4 linked regions of the Homo sapiens genome follow. The protein of the gene in region 1 purifies or fractionates together with the protein of each later gene. This does not show direct contact. Each region holds a gene or a part of one and is shown in the gene's direction. Other genes may lie near its edges.

What was found.
Region 2: the proteins of GDPD1 (region 1) and A1BG purify together in Homo sapiens (affinity purification with mass spectrometry; 3 studies listed by BioGRID and IntAct, with this or other methods). This does not show direct contact.
Region 3: the proteins of GDPD1 (region 1) and CP purify together in Homo sapiens (affinity purification with mass spectrometry; 3 studies listed by BioGRID and IntAct, with this or other methods). This does not show direct contact.
Region 4: the proteins of GDPD1 (region 1) and ORM1 purify together in Homo sapiens (affinity purification with mass spectrometry; 3 studies listed by BioGRID and IntAct, with this or other methods). This does not show direct contact.

The regions. Positions count from the first base shown.
Region 1 is NC_000017.11:59,219,198-59,223,405, forward strand, and holds the start of GDPD1 (lysophospholipase D GDPD1), read left to right. Parts: upstream 1-1,313; 5' UTR 1,314-1,412; coding exon 1,413-1,554; intron 1,555-4,208. UniProt on the Homo sapiens protein: Hydrolyzes lysoglycerophospholipids to produce lysophosphatidic acid (LPA) and the corresponding amines. Shows a preference for 1-O-alkyl-sn-glycero-3-phosphocholine (lyso-PAF), lysophosphatidylethanolamine (lyso-PE) and lysophosphatidylcholine (lyso-PC).
Region 2 is NC_000019.10:58,344,602-58,347,605, reverse strand, and holds the end of A1BG (alpha-1B-glycoprotein precursor), read left to right. Parts: coding exon 1-253; intron 254-576; coding exon 577-584; 3' UTR 585-2,423; downstream 2,424-3,004.
Region 3 is NC_000003.12:149,204,749-149,208,347, reverse strand, and holds part of CP (ceruloplasmin precursor), read left to right. Parts: intron 1-730; coding exon 731-985; intron 986-2,008; coding exon 2,009-2,180; intron 2,181-3,599. UniProt on the Homo sapiens protein: Multifunctional blue, copper-binding (6-7 atoms per molecule) glycoprotein. It has ferroxidase activity oxidizing Fe(2+) to Fe(3+) without releasing radical oxygen species. It is involved in iron transport across the cell membrane.
Region 4 is NC_000009.12:114,321,790-114,325,978, forward strand, and holds the start of ORM1 (alpha-1-acid glycoprotein 1 precursor), read left to right. Parts: upstream 1-1,308; 5' UTR 1,309-1,344; coding exon 1,345-1,458; intron 1,459-1,873; coding exon 1,874-2,016; intron 2,017-2,228; coding exon 2,229-2,299; intron 2,300-3,000; coding exon 3,001-3,108; intron 3,109-3,259; coding exon 3,260-3,363; intron 3,364-4,189. UniProt on the Homo sapiens protein: Functions as a transport protein in the blood stream. Binds various ligands in the interior of its beta-barrel domain. Also binds synthetic drugs and influences their distribution and availability in the body.

The DNA.
Region 1 (4,208 bases):
TCGGCCTCCTGAGTAGCTGGGATCACAGGCACACGCCACCACCCCTGGCAAATTTTTGTATTTTTAGTAGAGATGGAATTTCGCCATGTTGGCCAGGCTCCTGACTTCAAATGATCTGCCCGCCTCAGCCTCCCAAAGTGCTGGGATTACAGGCTTGAGCCACCGTGCCCAGCCACCCCCTATTTTCTTCTAATTTTCTTTTTATAGTTGAGATAGGGTCTTGCTCTGTCGCCCAGGCTGGGGTGCAGTGGTGCAGTCATAGCTCACTGCAGCCTCGATTTTCCAGGCTCAAGCAATACTCCCACTTCAGCCTCCCAAGTAGCGTGACTACAGGTGCACGCCACCACGCCGGGCTTATTTTGTTTTATTTTTTGTAGAGATGGGGTTTCGCCATGTTGCCCAGGCTGGTCTCGAACTCCCGGGCTCAAGCGATCCACCCTTCCTTCCCGGCCTCCCTAAGTGCTGGGATTACAGGCGTGGGCCACCGCGCCCGGCTGAATCAGGATTTTAAATATTCACTCTGCTTTTCTAGTCCTGTGGGAGATATGGTCTTCTCCGTAAAATTTCTCCCTCAGTCCTGGGTGATTTATTTCTTTTGCATTGAAGTGTGTGGCTTTTCGTGTGTTAGCAGTTTGTAATTTGTCGGGTAAAAGGAAAACTAGTAGGGCCTTCTGGAACTTAGTTATCTGTCTTTCTAGGACTTTTAGGTAATACCTTATAACCTTAACAAAGTTTCCTTATTTTATACGGACTTGTAAGTCAACAAATACTTCTACAGTGCCTATTGTGTACAAAGAATGAGGATTGCACTTTCACAATGAAATGAGGGAGGACAGGGGCCGATCTCTCAGATATTTGACTGATAAACCAGTACCTTTTCTAGTATATGCGACCATAGGGGAAATTCTCTCTAGGCTAGATAAACGGAGGAGTTTATTTAGTGTTTTAGCAAGCTTTATCGCCTCCATAGGTACAAATTATTTGCATTTTCTAGAGCAAGGGATAAGACGCGCCCTGGAATCTTTCCTTTTTGATGTGGATTTTCCAATTAGGAAAGGCTGCCCGTGAATAGTCTTTTCTGCTTGAGTGATGGCCAACACACTGGCAGGTTTGCAAGCTTTCTCTTCATGAGGGTCCGTCCACAGAGCTAGGTGACAAACGCTCAGTCCAGGATCTCTGCAGGTTCCTACACGGGAGCCGGAGAGCGCCTGCGCGTCGGAGCCTCTTTGTTGCTGGGGCGCTGGGGTCCAGCTGCGCGTGCGCAGTAGGCCGGCACCGACAAGTGCGCTGCACCAGTGGCACCGGCTGGGGGCGAGCCGACCTCGAGCAGCCGCCGCCGCCGCCGTCGTTGCTACTGCCGCAGCGGAGTTCAGAGGGCCCGGAGGTGGGAGACTTCCCACACGGTGACTGAGATGTCGTCCACTGCGGCTTTTTACCTTCTCTCTACGCTAGGAGGATACTTGGTGACCTCATTCTTGTTGCTTAAATACCCGACCTTGCTGCACCAGAGAAAGAAGCAGCGATTCCTCAGTAAACACATCTCTCACCGCGGAGGTGAGAGGGGTCCCCAGAACCCGATGACGGAGGTGGGGGAGGCTGAGGGTCCTTTGCGGCTCCGCAAAAGGCAGCCGGGTGCCAATCCCTGAGAGTTTGAGGAAGAATGGGGTTGTGTGAATTGAGGGCTCTTCCGGAGGTGAAGGCTGTGTGAAGGGAAGGTCTCCTGAGGGGAGGGAAGGAGAGGGATTCCCGGTCAGAGCCACGGCGGGGGTCTCTCGAGGGCAGCAGTGTGAGGGGTTCTCTGAAACGGGAAAGACACGGTCGAGAATGAAGGGTAGGTGGAGCGTTTCTCGGCGGATGGAAGGATGATCGCAAGGTCCCTTCCTAGCAGCAAGACACAAAGGGGGAGCGCCGTGCAGAACCGAGGGTACCCCGCGGGGGGCACCGGGAGCACACTGCTCCGAGCGAGCTAGTGGCTGAGTGGATGGGAAGAGCCGAGGCGACGAGGAGGGCTGGGGATTTGCATGAAGCTGGACGAGCTGTAACCCCTTGTCTGCGGTGCTGGGGGCCCGTCCCACCCCCACGTTCCGAGCACTCATAATTGAGAAGAGAGGGAAACCGAGTCCCCCGAGCCAGGGACATTTCCCAAGGTCACAATTAGAGCTAGGGCTGAACTGAGACAGGAGCTACAGCGTCCTGGTCCTCAGGGCTGGAAACCTTGCATCTTTTTTTTTTTTTTTTTGAACACTGCAATAAATAAATAAATAAATAAATAAATAAATAAACACGCAAAGACACGTGGATTTTCAACAGACTAAAAATGATTTCGTTTAGGACAGGACAGTATTGTTTAAAGAAAACAAAAATAAGTTTCTTTTGGAAAAGTGTTTTGCTAAAAGGAGCCCAGGTAGTCCACCCTCTAATTTCCCAGATAACAGGCCAAATCTTTGCTTCTTCATTATTGTGTAATAATGTGTCTTCATTGCATTTCAACTATGATGTATAAAGTGCGGTGAAATTGGATTATTTTCAATCAATTTTAACTGTTCTTTAAGGCTGAATCTTAAACCGGTTTAAAATTTGCTTGAAATTTAATACACACTTGAAATGATAATTTCTAGGAGTTTACAGTCTAAAACTTGGTGTAGTACCATAATCACTTTACTAACAAGTATTGGCCAAGGAAAAAGGTTTTGAAATATAAATACGGAAGTACATTATCATTCTTCTATATAATTTTATTAGTTAAGCATAGTTCTAATGAGTGACTTCAATAGTATTCTAGCCTTCCCACTCATGAAAAGCCTCAGAGGTTTTAAAGGGTGGTCAGCCAAATGCCTTGTTATTGTTTATTTGGGTTATCTGTTTTAATAGCTACCTGGTTAAACTGTAGGATGACATTTAACTACTAAGGTGCCTTCAACCATTGGAACCAGGGACCGACTTTTAGTATTCAAGTTGCTGTCACAGAAGCAATTTTCTTTTTTCTTTTTGTGTTTTTGTTTGTTTGTTTTTTTGTTTGTTTGTTTTGAGATGGAGTCTCGGTCTGTCACCCAGGCTGAAGTGCAGTGGCGCGATCTCGGCTCACTGCAAGCTCCTCCTCCCGGGTTCACGCCATTCTCCTGCCTCAGCCTCCCGAGTAGCTGGGACTACAGGCGCCCGCCACCACACCCAGTTAATTTTTTTTATTTTTAGTAGAGACGGGGTTTCACTGTCTGAGCCAGGATGGTCTCGATTTCCTGACCTCGTGATCCGCCCATCTCGGCCTCCCAAAGTGCTGGAATTACAGGCGTGAGCCACAGTGCCCAGCCTTTTTTTTTTTTTTTTTTTTTTTTTTGAGACAGAGTTTCCCTCTTGTCGCCCGGGCTACAGTGTAGTGGTGCCATCTTGGCTCACTGCAGCCTCTGCCTCCTGTGTTCAAGCGATTCTCCTGCCTCAGCCTCCCGAGTAGCTGGGATTACAGGCTCCCGCCACCACGCACAGCTAATTTTTGTATTTTTAGTGGAGACGAGGTTTCACCATGTTGGCCAGGCTGATCTCAAACTCCTGACCTCAGGTGATCCACCCGCCTTAGCCTCCCAAAGTGTTGGGATTACAGGCGTGAGACACTGCACCCTGCCAGAGGCAATTTTCAATGATAGTAGTCCTATTCTGGGGATAGGCAGTACACATTACTTTTTTGTTTGTTGTTTACCGATTTACAAAAAGTATGCTTACTAAAAACTCCAAAACAAAACAAAACCAGATCCTCTAAAAAGCTATCTAAACTGTCATTGTGAATGATCAAAATTTTATTTTAGAAGAAATACTTGTCGATCTTTGAAATTTTGCAACACTCTGCAGGTGAAAAAACCCAGCACTCCATAGGCGTTAAAGACTGTGTGCTAGATTATCACAACAAGTATCAAAGCCAGGATAAGCTAGACCTCAAATTTTCGTTTACTGTTGAAAATACTTTAAAACTATTTTCTTCCTAGATATTAGGTCATTTCAATATTACCTCTTATATAAAAATTTCCATTCATTATTTGTAAATGCGGCATCAGTATTTATATATTTAAAGATGTAATGGAACTTTTTGTGATAATCTTATTAAATATCTGCAGACTCAAAATCTGTTTTACCTATATAATGGTCCTATAAACACTGTGGTAAGTTCCCATGTCAGTGCTTCATATGCTTTTGTTGAATATGTACACTCAATACTCCAG
Region 2 (3,004 bases), on another chromosome or scaffold:
AGTGGGGCGGTCCTGGCGGGCCGAGATGCCGTCCTGCGCTGCGAGGGACCCATCCCCGACGTCACCTTCGAGCTGCTGCGCGAGGGCGAGACGAAGGCCGTGAAGACGGTCCGCACCCCCGGGGCCGCGGCGAACCTCGAGCTGATCTTCGTGGGGCCCCAGCACGCCGGCAACTACAGGTGCCGCTACCGCTCCTGGGTGCCCCACACCTTCGAATCGGAGCTCAGCGACCCTGTGGAGCTCCTGGTGGCAGGTGACGTTTCCCTGGGTCCCGGGTGCTGGTTCCGTCTGCTGATGTTTGCCTGGGCTGTGCCCACCTCCAGGAGGGCCTCTCCCGGCTCCTCCCTTGGGCACCCCTGGTTAGCGCTGGGTCTCCCCAGGGCTCGTGGGGGAATTGCGGGCGAGGAACCGCCCAGCAAAGGCCCTGCAGCTGGAGGCGCAGATGGGGGTCTCGGCTGGCAGCCGACCACGCGCTTCCTTCCGGGGGGGCGTCAGGGAGGTCGGCCTTGATTTCCGCGAGGAGGAGGGCATAGGATTTCCCCTCCTCCACCATTTCTCTTTTCTCCCGTTGTCTAGAAAGCTGATGCAGCCGCGGGCCCAGGGTGCTGTTGGTGTCCTCAGAAGTGCCGGGGATTCTGGACTGGCTCCCTCCCCTCCTGTTGCAGCACAAGGCCGGGGTCTCTGGGGGGCTGGAGAAGCCTCCCTCATTCCTCCCAGGAATTAATAAATGTGAAGAGAGGCTCTGTTTAAAATGTCTTTGGACTCCCAGGGCTGAGTGGGCTGGGATCTCGTGTCCTCAAAGTGGATGGGTTCTGGGGTGGCTCCTGAGGTAGAGGAGTGGAGAACTGGCTCTTAAGAGCACAGTTTTCTTTTCTTTTTTCTTTTTTGAGACAGGGTCTCACACTGTCACCCAGGCTGGAGTGCAGTGTTGCAGTCCGGCTCACTGCAGTTTTGACCTCCCAGGCTCAAGCGATCCTCCTGCCTCAGCCTCCCAAGTAGCTGGGAGCCTGGGCATGCATCGCCACGTCTGGCTAATTATTATTTTTTGTAGACAGGGTCTCACTGTGTTGCCCAAGCTTGTCTTGAACTCCTGGCCTTAAGTGATCCTCCCACCTCAGCCTCCTGAGTAGCTGGGACTACAGGCATGAGCCACCATGCCTGGCCAACTCACATTTTTCTTTCTATTATTTATTTTTTGTAGAGATGAGTCTCACTATGTTGCCCAGGCTGGTCTTGAACTCTTGGGCTCAAGTGATCCTCCCGCCTCAGCCTCCCAAAGTGTTGGGATTACAGGTGTGAGCCACAGCACCTGGCCAACCAACACTTCTCAGGGCCTCTTTCATCTGTGCTCTTCCAGGATGCTGCCTCTTACTCCCTGGGCACCTCGGCCTGGTCCCAGCAGGTATGGGCAGTTGCTTGAGGCTCCAGACATACTCACCTCTACCTCGACCACATCAACCCCATCACCAAGAGGAGGTTCAGGGAAGCTGCATTTTGTGGTCTTGTCCTCCCAGTCCAGGGTGGTAGTGCTGGGCTGTTCCCAGCCTCCCACAGCAGAGCTGGACGCTGTGGAAATGGCTGGATTCCTCTGTGTTCTTTCCCATTATCCCTCAGCTCTGAGTCCTCTTGTGCCATCTGACATCTGATGCCTTCCCAACCACTGCCGAGTTTCTGCCTGGAGCAGGGCCTCAAGGCCCTGGCACACAGAAGATGCGTATCAGTATTATCAACCAATAGTTGATGAATTGTGTTTTTCAACGAATTTGCTAGTGATCTGGTTTACTGCCTTAGTAATATCTAGTTCCTAATATGCCTATGCCTTTTAATGTCTGCACAGTCTATGATGATGTCACTTCTCTCAAGCCTGATGTGTCCTCTCTCTCTTTCTTGCTAGTGGTTTATCAATTTTTAAAACCTTTTCTTGTTTATTTGTTTTTGAGACAGAATTTTGCTCTTGTTGCCCAGGCTGGAGTGCAATGGCGTGATCTTGGCTCACAGCAACCTCTACCTCCTGGGTTCAAGTGATTCTCGTGCCTCAGCCTCCTGAGTAGCTGGGCTGACAGGCACCCACCACCACACCCAGCTAATTTTTATGTTTTTAGTAGAGATGGGGTTTCACCTTGTTGGGTGGCCAGGCTGGTCTCCAACTCCTGAGCTCAAGTGATCCACCCGCCTCAGCCTCCCAAAGTGCTGGGATTACAGGGGTGAGCCACCACGCCCAGCCCCAGCTTAGTTTTTTAAAAAGTTTATTTTAGCCATTCTAATAGGTATGTAGACATATCTAATAGTGGTTTTCCTTGCGTTTCCTTAATGTCTGATGATGTTAAGCATTTTTTCCCCAAGTGCTTAGTTGCCATCTATATAGCATCTTTGATGAAATGTCTGTTTATATATTTTGCACACTTTAAAATATTGGGTTGTTTTCTTTTTTCTTCTCTTTTCTTTTTTCTTCTCTTTTCTTTCTTTTTGAGAGAGTCATGCTCTGTTGCCCAGGCTGGGGTGCAGTGGCATGATTTCAGCTCACTGCAACTTCCGCCGCCCAGGTTCAAGCGATTCAACTCCCTCAGCCTCCTGTGTAGCTGGGATTACAGGCATGTGCCACCACACTGGCTGATTTTTGTATATTTAGTGGAGAGGGGGTTTCACCATGTTGGCCACACTGGTCTTCAACTCCTGACCTCAAGTGATCCACCTGCCTCAGCCTTCCAAAGTGTTGGGACTACAGGCATGAGCCACCGTGCCTGGCCTGTTTGTTTTCTTACTATTGAGTTTTGTTTGTTTGCTTTTGCTTTTTTTTTTTTTTTCCCGAATCTCACTCTGTTGCCCAGGCTGGAGTGCAGTGGTGTGATCTCGGCTCACTGCAACCTCCGCCTGCCAGGTTCAAGCAATTCTCCTGCCTCAGCCTCCGGAGTAGCTGGTACTACAGGCACCCACCAGCATGCCCGGCTAGTTTTTTGTATTTTTAGTAGAGATGGGGTTTCACCATGCTGTCCAGGCTGGTCTC
Region 3 (3,599 bases), on another chromosome or scaffold:
GAGCAGGTTTGATTTGGTACCAGTGTTACATGTGGTGCACTCAGGATTCTTCCCAGAACTAATTTCCACTTGGGAAATTTTTAGGGCCACCCAGTTTGAACAGTGACCATAAGTTTCTTCTGAGGGTTTCAGGCCACCTTGCCTATGAACTTTTAGGTCTTTGTGGCTCTGTCCCTGCTGCCCTTCTACATTTTTTCCCTCCTTCATATCTCTTCCAATCTTAAAAATTTTGTCTTGCAATCTTTAAAAAAAAGCTATTCTTATGTACTTTTTACAAAATAAATTTATGGTAGAAAATTGGAAATTTTCTGACAAGCAAAAACATCCATACTACCAACATGATGAATAACTGATTGAATACTAATATTCAATCTTTTTTCTATTAATTCTATGTGTGTTTTGTTTATATGTATGTATATATGCACACCTCTGTATTTACACACACACACAATGTGTACAGTTTATAACAAAGACAGCAAATAGGTTTTATCTTCAGTATTGTGTTCATCTGTTAATATGGTATTGATAAGAATCCTCAGGCTGAATTCAGTTCCAAAATGAAAGAGTGCTGTGATTGATTAGCAATGTCTGACATGAGTATAGGGGGCAAGAATACCAGCATGTGTGCCAGATATTTGCCATTCCAAATTGATTCTATTTATATAGAGGTAACTCTCACTATCTCAAGCATTAATGACTCTTAGTCACAAACTCTGCTCTTGACTTACAGCTGTGAATGGATACACTTTTGGAAGTCTCCCAGGACTCTCCATGTGTGCTGAAGACAGAGTAAAATGGTACCTTTTTGGTATGGGTAATGAAGTTGATGTGCACGCAGCTTTCTTTCACGGGCAAGCACTGACTAACAAGAACTACCGTATTGACACAATCAACCTCTTTCCTGCTACCCTGTTTGATGCTTATATGGTGGCCCAGAACCCTGGAGAATGGATGCTCAGCTGTCAGAATCTAAACCATCTGAAAGGTAGGACATCTTTACCTGAAATTAGCAGTCAGCTGAAAAAGGTGGTTACTGGGAATCAGAATCTAAAAGCTAAATATCTTTGAAATAATCTGAGCTTTGAACTGGCATCTTAGTTTTATCCCTATGATGGTATATATAATAATGTAATAAAAAAAGACTGTAAGACAGGAATATTATAAAGTAATGAAATTTGAAAATATATTAGTTTTTGGAAAGAACAACTGGCCCTGAAAGTATAGTACTATATATACTTACTCAGCTTTGTAAAATATACCAGTGTTGTAACATCCAGAAAAATTGTATGTTGCACTGGAAAGCACCCTGTTTTTCGACTTATTTCTGTCAAGTATAATTAACTTTGTTCTTTATTTGAGCCTGGCCATCCCTTAGTTTAACTCGATAAATCCTTCCTTTATCTCTTTAACTTAGGCAATAAAAACATTCCTTGTTCTTGAAAAATATTAGTTTTTAATATTGGTCTACTGAATAAATTAAGTTTAACATAGGAGTTCAGATATTTTACTTTGACGTGCAAATATAATTGCTTTTATCAAATATGCTCTGGGCCACAGAAGGCCCAGCACAGCAGATGCACAACCATCTTGTACAAGACAGCAATAATATAAGCTCATTTGGTACCTCCTCCTTGTACCTCCTCCTCCACCCAATGCAACCCCTTAAAATATGTCAAAGCCTCTCTTCTCTGCTTATCTACAGATTTGTTCTTTTTCTCTCATTGAAAGAACTACCAAGTGAAACCCCACAGAAACTGGTACCATATTTTGAAAACATATATGCTTAATATCTCTATGCTGTATGTACATAAAAAACAAAGTATATCTGTTTTAAACTTGAGTTTTCCATCATTAATTTATTTACAGCTGTCTGCCCTAGTTTATAGTACTGTTGCTATCTGTCTATTCCTTCAATTTCTACTTGTCATCACCCGAGCAGTGTTTACAGGGCAATAGGAGAGAGAAACATTGTCTTCATTAATCAATGCCTCTTTCTGTTTCATTTCAGCCGGTTTGCAAGCCTTTTTCCAGGTCCAGGAGTGTAACAAGTCTTCATCAAAGGATAATATCCGTGGGAAGCATGTTAGACACTACTACATTGCCGCTGAGGAAATCATCTGGAACTATGCTCCCTCTGGTATAGACATCTTCACTAAAGAAAACTTAACAGCACCTGGAAGGTAATTTACAAAAAAAGAGTACTATTTCAAAATATGCTCTCCCCCGCACAAAGGAACTACAAAAGGCTAATTCAGCAATTAAAATTTTAATTGGTATCTGAAATTGAGTAACTAGACTGCTAAATATTTATTAAGGTATTTGATGTAAGAGTCTGAGCTTGAGAACTATGAGTTTTGAGTCCATGAAAAAAGATGGGTTCAAAAGTTATCAAATGCTTGACAAAGTCCTAAGAAAACACTGAATACTATTAGATAAATCAATTAATTTGCTTCCCATTTCAGAAAACGTGGCACTGTACGATTCAGCAGCATTAAGTACAGTTACACTATTGCATAGCCGTCACCACTATCCATTTCCAGAACTTTTTTTTTATCATCCCAAATGAAAACTCTGAACCCTTTAAACAATAACAACCTTCTTCCACTCTTTCTCCACCCCCTGATAAGCTCGATTCTACTTTCTGTCTCTATGAGTTTTCCTATTCTAGGCAACTCATACAAGTGGAATCATACAATATTGGTTCTTTTGTGTCTTTTATATCACTTAGCATAATGTTTTAAGATTTGTTCATGTTGTAGCATGCATCAGAATTTCATTCCTCTTTAAGGCTGAATAATGCTTCATTGTATGTATATACCATATTTTGTTTATTCATTCATCTGTTGATAAACATTTGGGTCATTTCCACCTTTTGGCTATTGTGACTAATGTTGCTATGAACAATTGTTATACAAATATCACTGTTCAAATCTCTGCTTTTAATTATTTTGCATATCCAGCTAGAAGCGATTCCGCTTCTAGCTGGATATGCAAAATAATTAATAGAAATGGTAATTCTATTTTTAATTTTTTGAGGAACCACATTACTGTTCTCCATAGCAACTGCACCATTTTACAGGCTCATCAGCAATGTACAGGGGTTTCAATTTCTTCACATTCTCATCAACACTTGTTATTTTCTGTTTTGTTTTTTTTTTTAATAATAACCATCCTAATGAGCATAAGTGATATTTCATAGTGGTTGTGATTTGCATTTTCTTAATGACTAGTAATGTTGAGGATCTTTTCATGTACTTTTTGGTCATTTGTGTATCTTCTTCAGATAAATGTCTATTTAAGTCCTTCAGCCATTTTTGAAGTGGGATTTGTGTTGTTGTTGTTGTTGACCTGTAGGAGTTCTTTATATATTCAGGATATTAATTCCTTATCAGTTATTTGCAAATATTTTCTGGCATTCTATAGGTTGTCTTTCACTTTCTTGATAGTGTCCTTTGATGTACACAAGCTACTCTTTGTACATGTCTGAATGACTTCCACAGCCTCCCAGTCATTCTTTCTGTTTGTCTTCCTTTTCTACTATCGATTTTTTACAAAGCAGTACTGTGATCTTTCAAAAATGTCAATGAGATGATGCCACT
Region 4 (4,189 bases), on another chromosome or scaffold:
AAAGATAGGGTCTCACTATGTTGCCCAGGCTAGTCTTGAACTCCAGGACTCAGGTGACTCTCCCATCTTGGGTCCATTAAGCTTTTAACTACAAACTACACTGAAATATGAAAGTTATTCAGAATGAAATGAATAAGAATGCAAAATTATAATCATACCGTAAGAATACTTTCTGAGTAATCCCAGCACTTTGGGAGGCCGAGACGGGTGAGTCACCTGAGGTCGGGAGTTCCAGACCAGCCTGGCCAACATGGAGAAACCCCATCTCTACTGAAAATAACAACAACAAAAAAAATTAGCTGGGCGTTGTGGAGGGCACCAGTAATCCCAGCGACTCAGGAGGCTGAGGCAGGAGAATCGCTTGAACCCAGGAGGCACAGGTTGCAGTGAGCCGAGATTGAGCCATTGCACTCCAGCCTGGGGGACGGGAGTGAAACTCCGTATCAAAAAAAAAAAAAAATGAATACTTTCTGAAAGTATTTATTCATACAAATAAAGACTTGACCCGTGAGGTAGGAACACAAATGGGCCACGGAATCACTCATTCCACAGAATATACCGAGTGCCCTTGAAGTGCTGGGCACTGCTCCAGGATTGGGGGCGTATTGGTGAAAGAGAAGCAAGCTGCCTGCTCAGATGGCAGGGAATGGGGGAAAACAGGGAGACAGTTTCCTGTTTGAGATGTTGGGAGATGCTTCGAGTAGTATATTTACTGGAAATAGACATTCAACTTGGATGTCCCTTTTTGGAAATGTGCCTGCGTCCAGGGCTGGGTTGGGGCCCCAATGAACTTTGGCTCTGACACAGCTGTTGCCACACTCAGTGGAACTGAATCTATGTTTGTCTTCCCCGGCATCCTTCACCCCAACTCTCCCCGCCACAACATACATCCCATGCCAGCCTGGGGACCCTCAAAGGTGGCTTCATCATTAGGTTTGTGGCTGGGTCCCACTGAAGTAAGTCTTGGCACTCAGAGGGATAGGAATTGAATGAAGACATGAGATTCCTCTGCGGGAGGCCTCTCTAGGAAATCTGTGGACTCACACGTTTACTAATGTTGCTGCAGCCCCGCACCCACCTTGGCCTTGGGCAGCCATACTCTAGGGCTTTTGTAACCTCTCCATGTGAGGAACTCAAATTAGACCTGGGTTTGGAGGCGGTGCTCCGAGCTGGCCTTTGGGGGAGGTTTTGTGCGAGGCATTTCCCAAGTGCTGGCAGGATTGTGTCACAGACACAGAGTAAACTTTTGCTGGGCTCCAAGTGACCGCCCATAGTTTATTATAAAGGTGACTGCACCCTGCAGCCACCAGCACTGCCTGGCTCCACGTGCCTCCTGGTCTCAGTATGGCGCTGTCCTGGGTTCTTACAGTCCTGAGCCTCCTACCTCTGCTGGAAGCCCAGATCCCATTGTGTGCCAACCTAGTACCGGTGCCCATCACCAACGCCACCCTGGACCGGGTGAGTGCCTGGGCTAGCCCTGTCCTGAGCACATGGGCAGCTGCCTCCCTTCTCTGGGCTTCCCTTTCCCTGCTGGCTGTGGTCGGACCCCCACTCCCGGCTCTGCCTTTTTCTCTTCTGGGTCCCCAGGGTGAAATTCTCACCAGCCCAGGGGACTCTGGAGGCACCCCCTGCCTCCAAACACAGAAGCCTCACTGCAGAGTCCTTCACGGAGGACGGTTCTGTGCTGGGCCTGGAGGGGCTGCCTGGGGGGCAATGACTGATCCTCAGGGTGAGCTCCTGCATGCGCACTGCCCACCAGGGGCCTCATCTCCCCATCTGCAAAATCAGGGAGAGATCTGCCTGAGTCTCCTCCCAGCTGACAGTCAAAGATTCAGCATCAAGCCCCCATCACCAGCTCCCACCTTCTCCCCAGATCACTGGCAAGTGGTTTTATATCGCATCGGCCTTTCGAAACGAGGAGTACAATAAGTCGGTTCAGGAGATCCAAGCAACCTTCTTTTACTTCACCCCCAACAAGACAGAGGACACGATCTTTCTCAGAGAGTACCAGACCCGGTGAGAGCCCCCATTCCAATGCACCCCCATCTCAGCTTCTGGCCAGAAGACCTGAGCAAGTCCCTCCTTCTTCCTGGCCTTGGCCTTCCCATGGGTGGAACCGGGAGGGCTGGCTTTAATCTCCACCAGACTCTTGCCCCAGGACTGTGATGGGCGATTGGCCACTTCTCAATAATCTTCCTGTTTTCCTTCCGCCTTCTGTTTGGCTTTAGACAGGACCAGTGCATCTATAACACCACCTACCTGAATGTCCAGCGGGAAAATGGGACCATCTCCAGATACGGTGAGGGCCAGCCCTCAGGCAGGAGGGTTCACTGTGGGAACAGGGCAGGCCAGCATAAGGTGGGGGCTGGATGTAGAGCCCTGGAGGCTTTGGGCACAGAGAAATAACCACTAACATTTTTGAGCTCTAACGATGTGCTCAGAAACAACTCTAAGAGGACACTGAGAGAATTAGAGGAGGAAAAAGAAGAACAGAGACCTCAAATAGTTTCCCCAAGGTCACACAGCTTATAATTAGAACTAGAATTGGAACTCCAGGCTGGCTTCAGATCTGCCTCTCTCTCATGCCCTCTTTAAGATCCTTTGCAAACCAATGGTAGAAGCCTGTATGTTGGAGAGGTGGTACCTTCAACTATGTCCCCCATCACCGCAGAGGTGGCACATGGCAGGGAGCTGATGGAGCTGAACTGACACCATTTAGCATCCCGAGCCTCCTCTCTGGGCCTCATTTTCCTCATCTGTAAAACGGAGAAAGGCCCTGACAGCCACGGTCTGTGTGAGGCTCCTGAGATCTCATGTACAGAAAGTGCTTGGCGTGGAGCTGGGCATGCAGCAGGGGCTGGGCACACGGTGGCCCAAAGGAGCCCTGGGCCTTCACTGATGGGCTGTGTGGCCACTGACACACCTAGGCCTCCTCACCTGTAAGACAGACACCATTGTGCCATCCCATGTTCTCACCCAGAGGCTCCTTTTCTCTTCCAGTGGGAGGCCAAGAGCATTTCGCTCACTTGCTGATCCTCAGGGACACCAAGACCTACATGCTTGCTTTTGACGTGAACGATGAGAAGAACTGGGGGCTGTCTGTCTATGGTAGGCATGCTTAGCAGCCCCAAACTCATGCCCCTCTCAGGCCTCACCCCCCATTCACCCACCCCTGGGCTGGCCCCTAGAACCCCAGCCCTCCCTGGCCTCCCGCCGGGCCCCACCATGTCCCCAGTCAGTCTCCTTGCTCCCCCTGCAGCTGACAAGCCAGAGACGACCAAGGAGCAACTGGGAGAGTTCTACGAAGCTCTCGACTGCTTGCGCATTCCCAAGTCAGATGTCGTGTACACCGATTGGAAAAAGGTAAACGCAAGGGATTGGACAGTGCCCACCTTGTCCATGGCCCAACTTGGGCAGCCCCAGAGGCCCAGAGCAGGAGAGCTGCCAGGCAAGGCTGCACAGCTAGGCAGATCTTCTGCTTTTAGGCACCTGCCTCACTGTAGGGACAGCTGAGCTCTACAGAGGCCCAGGGGTGGTGGATGAGAGCCCAGGAGGGAGAAGTCCCTGTGAAACCAGGGAGGACCTGAAAGCTAACAGGAGGGAACAGCGTGAGCCACGGGGTTGGGGGATTGGCAATTGGAGGGGACGTAATGCGGGGAGTTACCACCTACAGACGCGTCCCAAACCCCAGGCTTTCACCCCACCTCCACTCCCCACTCATTTTTAATACCCGTGCAGTGGGGAATTGATACTGTGGTTTTCAATGTCACCCACACTGCAGCACGGCCACAGTCACCATCCCGATTTTTGCTACAAATGAAAATTACTTTATAATGAGCTCCTTAACACTTTTCTTTAAACCTGTGTTTGGAAGACTTGCGTTGGTGTGGCCCTGTGCCCAATACCTGTGAAATCACAGCACCGATGAGCTGGTTCCAATTTTTAAAATATATACATGCAGTACTTCCATGACTATTCAAAGAAAAACAATTCCTTCCATTTGCCATCTGAGATGACCACCAGTGGTGTGAACTACCTCCTGCCCCCATCTGCAGTCCCAGGATCCTGGGACAGGGCTTATGAACACAACCACTGTAGTCAGCTCACCTGATCCACAGCCTGGCACCCCCACTGTCTGGCTAGGGAGCCTCGAATGGGTCCCAAGGCCACCCTGCTCCTCAGTTACATC